2 linked regions of the Homo sapiens genome follow. The protein of the gene in region 2 purifies or fractionates together with the protein of the main gene of each other region. This does not show direct contact. Each region holds a gene or a part of one and is shown on either strand. Other genes may lie near its edges.

Region 1 (3,823 bases), on a different chromosome or scaffold from region 2:
ACAAGTCTACTAAGAGTCTTGAGAAAGAGTATTCTTAACTTGATTTTGAGCAGCAGGTTTCTCATGCACTGCCATAACCCACTGTTCAAGCCATTCCCAACAGTCAGTTGTTCTAGGGCTGGATTACATTTTCTGTGTAACCAGGGAGAGTCATGAGGATAATTCTCTCTGGTTTCTGTTTTTCCTCTCACTTCAGCTGAAAGACTCACCCCAGGTTGGTGAGGACACATAGACAGGTGTGTTCTTGTTGTTTGTTCCATTGTACCAACGCGCTAAGAAATCAGCTCCAATTCGAAGTGCACCTGTTCCCCCCAAAGATTGCACACCTCCTACCTGAAAGAGAAGAAACAGGGTCACAGGCTGATAATGGTGAGGTCAGATAATATTTACAAAAATAAGGTAATAATGAGCACTTACTCTATGCCTGCTCTGTGCTAAGGCTTTTAATTGTATTATCTCATCAAAACCTTACAACTACTACATGAAAAAGGTACTATGATTTGCCCATGTTTACAACTGAGGAAACTGAGGCTGAGAGAGGTGAAGAACCTTGCTCAAAGTTACCAGCTACTGAGCAGGAGTGCCAGTCTTCAACCCAGGAGGTCTGACACTAGAAGAAGCTTCCCTTCTGAACACAGAGGTAGAGGACACACCGAGGCCACATTAGTGTGTGTGTGTGTGTGTGTGTGCATGCACGCACATGCCTTGGAAGGCAAACCCATCTCTTCAGCACCCATCCTAAGATCAAACTTACCCTCTAGCATAAGCCTCTAAAACAGTGTTCCTAACTTGTCATTGACATCAATCTGTGCTACTCCTCATCTCTAGAATTCAGGCTTATTAATCCTTAGAAGTATGTTCTAACAAAACAGAGGTGATGCATGAGTACTACTTTCTTCTCCTTGGCTTCCTCTCATTTTTTTTTTTTTTCTTTTTGAGACAGTCTCATTCTGTCACCTAGGTTGGAGTGCAGTGGCATGGTCTCAGCTAACTGCAACTTCCGCCTCCCAGGTTCAAGTGATTCTCCTGCCTCAGCCTCCCGAGTAGCTGGGACTACAGGCGCCTGCCACCATGCCCGGCTAATTTTTTGTATATTTAGTAGAGACGGGGTTTCACCATTTTGGCCAGGTTGGTCTCGAACTCCTGACCTTGTGATCTGCCTGCCTTGGCCTCTCAAACTGCTGGGATTACAGGTGTGAGCCACTGCGCCTGGCTGGCTTCCTCTCATCCTAAAGTGACCTAACATAGGCAATAATAAAAGCCATATTTTATTTATTTATTTATTTATTTATTTTACTTTAAGTTCTGGGATATGTGTGCAGAATGTGCAGGTTTGTTACATAGCTATACATGTGCCATGGTGGTTTGTGGCACCCATCAACCCGTCATCTAGGTTTTAAGCCCCGCATGCATTAGGTATTTGTCCTAATGCTCTCCCTCCCCTTGCCTCCCACCCACCGATAGGCCCCCGTGTGTGATGTTCCCCTCCCTGTGTCCACGTGTTCTCATTGTTCAGCTCCCACTTTTAAGTGAGAACATGAGGTGTTTGGTTTTCTATTCCTATATTTTATCATTTACAAAATGCTTTCATGTATACTCAATGCCCACATGCCCTCTAAAGTCAAGTCTATATCCCCTGAAACATGAGGAACTGATTCAGAGACATGTTTTTCCCAAAGGATACACAGTTGTGAGTGGCACAGCTCAGCACAAATCCAGGTTTTCCATTCTAGATGGAGTCACTACATTCTAATGATGTAGTTCTCTGCCTATAGATCTTTGATTTTGCCTCTTCAAAATTCTAATTAGGTTTCAGCATAAGTCTCTCAGCAGAAAAATGTCATAAACCCCATGTTGCCCAATTTGTCTAAAGGATTGAAGAGAAAGGAAGAAAAAGATCACATGAAAAAGTCTATCTAGCCGGGCGCAGTGGCTCACGCCTGTAATCCCAGCACTTTGGGAGGCCAAGGTGGGTGGATCACTTGAGCCCAGGAGTTTGAGACCAGCCTGGCCAACATGGTGAAACCCTGTCTCTCCTAAAAATACAAGAAAATTAGCTGGGCATGGTGGCACACACCTGTAATCTCAGCTACTCGGGAGGCTGAGACGTGAGAATCATTTGAACCTGGGAGGCAGAGGTTGCAGTGAGCCAAGATCGCACCACTGCCCTCCAGCCTGGGCAACACAGTGAGACTCTGTCTCAAATAAATAAATAAGTAAATACAAGGAGGGACACACGCCAATCTTCTAACAGTGGCAACCTCTGGGGAGGGGTCCAAGGATGTAGGAATAGTGGTTGAAAGGGACTTTGGCCTAATCTATAAGTCGTTTTTTTAAAAATAAGATGAATGTATTCATGTATTAGTCATAAAATTTTACAATTTCAAACACCTATTTAGATGTCTGGGATTTACTATTAAATAATAATCCAGCTTTCGTGGAGGGCAGGGAGGCAGGGAGGCAGGGAGTGGGTAGATGGAAATACACAGGATTGACCCTATACAGATAATTGTTGAAGCTAGGTGATGGATACACAGGGATTCATTCTTTATACTGTTTTCTCTACTTTCATATAGATTTGAAATGTTCCATAATAAAAAGGTTTTTTTTGTGTTTTTTTTTTGTTTGTTTTTTGAGACAGAGTCTCGCTCTGTTGCCCAGGCTGGAGTGCAGTGGCACGATCTTGGCTTACTGCAACCTCCGCCTCCTGGGTTCAAGTGATTCTCCTGCCTCAGACTCCTGAGGAGCTGGGACTACAGGCACGTACCACCACACCCAGCTAATTTTTGTGTTTTTAGTACAGATGGGGTTTCACCATGTTGGTCAGGCTGCTCTCCAACTCCTGACCTCGTGATCCGCCTGCCTCGGCTTCCCAAAGTACTGGGATTACAGGCATGAGCCACCACGCCTGGCCAATAAAAAAGTTTTAAAACTCTTCTTAGAGAAGAAAAGCTTCCTAAATCTTTTCAAGAACCTAACATAACATTGCTGCTAAAAGACAACAAAAGGGAAAAAAGTAGAATGAGAGACCTAGATCGTACCTTGATACTAACTTCCCAAGTAAACATTAATGAACAATATTAATCCAGCAGTACATTAAAATTACCCCCTTGATTGAGAGTCATCCCATGAATGGATTATAAGAGATATAAAACCAATCATGCTGCTAGATAGAGAAAACCCAAATGATCATCACAACAGGTAAGAAAAGCTTGGCTATTCCTGAGATAAATGCTTAGTAAAACAGGAAACAGTGGATACTTCCTGAAAATGACTGAAAAAAATTCATTTAACCCATAAGTCAGCTTAAAAACAGTGAATCGTTTAGTAGAAATCCCATTTAAGCCAACAACAAGGTAATGTTACCAATTATCGGCACTATTATGCACCAATGTTCTGTTTGTATTTATAGGTGTGAGCATCTGTGAAAGAATACTATCTGAAATGTGAAACATAAGCAAAGTTGACATTCAAGGGGATGCAGAACTAAACATAGCTGTACATTACAGAGAGGGGCAAAGGCAGTGCACTGGGGTGAAAATGCTCAGTGTGTGTCAGATTTGGTGTGCTAACTACTCTGTTATTTACAGTGATCCTTACTGAGCACTCATCCCTTGCTATTACTTTAAAAGTTTTGCCCCCACATTGTGGTTTACCTGAATTCTTTATGCAAATTGCTACCAAGATGATATAACACAAATGTGCATTTATTTTTTATGGATTTGTCATCCAGCTAAGTTGAATGTCAGTTTCATACATGACTTCACATTGCAGATACCTAAGCCACTCTAGAGTGCTAATACTTCCTAAGCAAATGAGCAAG
Region 2 (3,823 bases):
AAAGGAAAAGTGGGTAGAAGATGGCTTATGGGAATAATGAATTGCCTCTTGGTTTTACGTGTTGCTATTCTGTTAATTTGCATGAGAGCAGACTTACAGATATAAAATATTAATCCCCTCAAGCACTATCCACTTGGTCTTTTCTAAAGACCCTCTTGAGCAAAAGAGGAAGCAAAGGGCTCATTGAAGTCAAGCCCCACAGGGACCATAAACTCCTCACTGAAAAGTTCACATGCAATTCTATAGGGACTCAAAAGGTTCGGAATTAATTGTTATCACAGGTGCAGCAACAAGCTTCCCGATTAAAGATGCCAAATTATACTGCATGAGAAAGTTTATTGTTTTGAGAACGTTTACTTCTGAGCCAGAGTTGTTCACTAGTTTATTTTGCCAAAAGTTGTTAGCTGTGGGGAGAGAGGATTGGCTACTACTATATAGTCTTCAAAGACACCTAATTGACTTTTCTTGTGTTGGGAAGGTGCTAGAACAGACTTAAGAAACATTGAGAAGAAGCTGGCCTTCGACATGGCTACCAATGCTGCCTGTGCATCTCTCCTGAAAAAGAAACAGGGAACAGGTATTTGTTTTAAATTCTTCTTTCTCCTCTGGTGCCCCATAACTAAGATTTATTAACTTAGAATGGCGCAAAAGAGATAAACTCAGCTGAGTGCAGTGGCTTATACCTGTAATCCCAGCACTTTGGGAGGCCAAGGCAGGAGGTTCACTTGAGCCCAGGAGTTGGAGACCAGCCTGAGCAATAAAGTGAGACCTCTGTCTCTACAAAAAGTACCAAAAATTAGTCAGACATTGTGGTGTGGGCCTGTAGTCCCAGCTACTCAGGAGGCTGAGCTGGGGGATCACTTGAGCCCTGGGAGGTTGAGGCTGCAGTGAGCTGTGATCGCACCACTGCATTCCAGCCTGGGTGAGAGCAAGACCATATCTCAAAAAAAGAAAACCAAAAAAAAAAAAAAAAAAAAAAAAAAAGATAAACTCTTCAGATGATTCTGAAGTTTGTTTCAATATCCTTGATCTTAATGAGAACCCCCAAAATAGGACACCCTCAATTAAACAGAAATTAGACAAGAAACATAATCTTTTACCTTTATTGTGTGTTTCTTTTATTCCTTGCAATTAAGTTCTAATCACCCTGCTTTCCATTACAGTCCTTTTCAGAGAACGATCATCTTCATTCCCTCATTTAAATATGTATTTATGAGTGATTACCACTAAATATTTTTAAAAATAACATTTAATAGCTCCATGATTATATTTTATTTCTGTTTTAAATGAGGATATCAGTAAACTGTAATCAAATTTATTCTAGACTTTGCTAAATCTTCTGGACTTTATTCATAGTATTATGGGTGGTTTTTTAAAATAGAGTTTAAATGTACATTATTATTATTTTTTTAGATGGAGTCTTACTCTGTTGCTCAGCCTGGAGTGCAGGTGTGCAATCATAGCTCACTGCAGCCTCAAACTCCTAGGCTCACGTGATCCTCCCATCTCAGCTTCCTGAGAAAATGGGACTACAGGCATGTGTCATCATGCCCAGCTAATTTTTTTTTTAATGTAGAGATAGGGGTCTTGCCATGTTGTCCAGGTTGGTCTCGAACTCATGGACTCAAGCCATCCTCCTGCCTCAGCCTCCCAAAGCACTGGGATTACAGGCGAGAGCCGCTGTGCCCAGCCTCCTTTTGTTCTTTATTCTAGATATGTCTTTGTTCCAGATTTCTTTTCTTTTTTTAACTTCAGTTTGAATATAGTGTAACTGCTAATCAGTTGGTATTCCTTAATTAATCCATGAGAGCTCACTGGGAGTGCAAGCCTTTCTTTAAAGTAATTCCTCATGGATAGATGGAGATGGGTTCTACTAAGGGAATGGGAAAGTATCAGCTGAGCTGGTGCTCCCCAGCTACATTATGATTGAGAAGCCATATTTGCAATAGTGTGAGAGACATACTTCTGCTTGAGTTCGACCTCCTACTCCTTGCTGCCTTGATTGGGTCAGGAAGTAGGAGTCTGGCCTAACTTCCTTTCTCTGCCACTGACTTCCTGTTGTGTGGCTACCCTTAGCCTGTCCTGACCGAAGAGTAAGGCTTCTTATGACCTGAAGGTATCAGAGTCTAATGCATGCTATGAGCTCCATTTTGATAGACAAGGCATATACCAAACTTTCTTAGACCTCAGAGAGCTTACCCAGAAGCCTTACTCAGGAGTGGTTTGAGTTGAGGGAGGCAGGTAATGAGCCTTTCTGCAGCCTTCGTAGAACAGGGCTGGGAGGCAGGTACTCTTTTCTCTGTGCACCCCAAGTGTGTTTAGTCTACCTTCCTGAATTTGAACTGATTAGGTAATAGATTCATTAATGAGGTAATCTTAGGGCCTGGCAGACAGAGCCAAGAAATGAGTTTTTATATTTCAATTTTCATGTTACTTTTAAAATGTTTTTTCTTGCTTCATTTCCCCAATTATACAGTTAATTTGTATTGTGATCCTCATTGGAATAGGTTTGGACTATTTGGCCATAGAGTTAATTGTCAGCATGAACTCTAAGTTGGAAAAGGTATATTCTGATATTGTTGTCCACTTTTTTTTTTTTTTTGAGACAGAGTCTCACTCTGTTGCCCAGGCTGGAGTGAAGTGACACAATCTCAGTTCACTGCAACCTCCGCCTCCCGGGCTCAAGTGATTCTCCTGCCTCAGCCTCCTGAGTAGCTGGGATTACAGGCATGAGCCACGATGCCCGGCTAATTTTTGTATTTTTATCAGAGATGGGGTTTCACCTTTTTTGTCCAGGCTGGTCTCGAACTCCTGACCTCAAGCGATCTGCCTGCCTTGGCCTCCCAAGGTAGTTGTTGTCTACTTTTAGAAGCACAATGTGGATTTTTTAATAAGTACAAAAATTCACATTTTGCAGTTACTATGGAAGATAACTAGGATATAGGGCTGGGGGTTATACTCGAGTTGAGCCCTTTAACATTTTTTTCCAACTTTTAAAAATTTGTGTATAATTTACATTAAGTAAGTACATAAATCTTAAGCATACAGCTTGATTAATTTTTTTTACACCTGTTCACCACAACCCAGATGAAGCTAGAGAACAGTTCCCACACGCCACATGCCTCCCTCAGTGTCTTCTGCTTCTCTCACCATAGATTAGTTCTGCCCGTTCGTGAACTTTATGTAAATGGAATCAAACAGTATGTACTTTTTGTGACTGACCTCTTTCATTTACATTATGTCTGTGAGAGTCATCCATATGCCTGTGTTTATTTCTCCATCATTTATTTATTGTTTGTATGTTTGTTGGTTGGTTTTAAGTGCTGGTTCTTGATTTGAGATATGTAAAGCCAGGGTGATGGGACTGAGGTAAAATGAACGTGAGCTAGGGAAGGATGGCAGTGCTGCAGGAAGATACATTCCTATGCGTGCTATGCCCAGAGGTGGGCTGTGAAGAGATACAGGCTCATCACACAACACCTGACCATGTGGGAAAACTGCCTCAGAACAGTTCATGAAAGGAAAGAAGGAGAAGGAATTTATTTGCTGACTTGTGCCTGTCTTTTGATGACCACTCAGTCAGAGTCTGCACTGTGGCAAATCATCCTCTCTTTTTAATAGAAGTAAGAATAAAATAAAGAGCAGAAGTAACCATCCAAGGACACAGAATATGGGCAAAACTTAGGATAGTGGAGTAGAAGGGGACAGAGTTTTCCTATTTGTCTCTCAGGCTTTAGCTTAGAAAGCTACATTTTACCAAGTTGACATGAAGTCCTGAAGGTCCTGGGTGTGTGTTGGGGGAGAACAAAATATATTCCTCCCA

The links.
Region 1: the proteins of OSTF1 (region 2) and GOT1 purify together in Homo sapiens (affinity purification with mass spectrometry; one large-scale study listed by BioGRID and IntAct). This does not show direct contact.

Annotation. Positions count from the first base shown.
Region 1 is NC_000010.11:99,406,517-99,410,339, forward strand, and holds part of GOT1 (aspartate aminotransferase, cytoplasmic), read right to left. Parts: intron 334-3,823; coding exon 210-333; intron 1-209. UniProt on the Homo sapiens protein: Biosynthesis of L-glutamate from L-aspartate or L-cysteine. Important regulator of levels of glutamate, the major excitatory neurotransmitter of the vertebrate central nervous system. Acts as a scavenger of glutamate in brain neuroprotection.
Region 2 is NC_000009.12:75,140,356-75,144,178, forward strand, and holds part of OSTF1 (osteoclast-stimulating factor 1), read left to right. Parts: intron 1-478; coding exon 479-577; intron 578-3,823.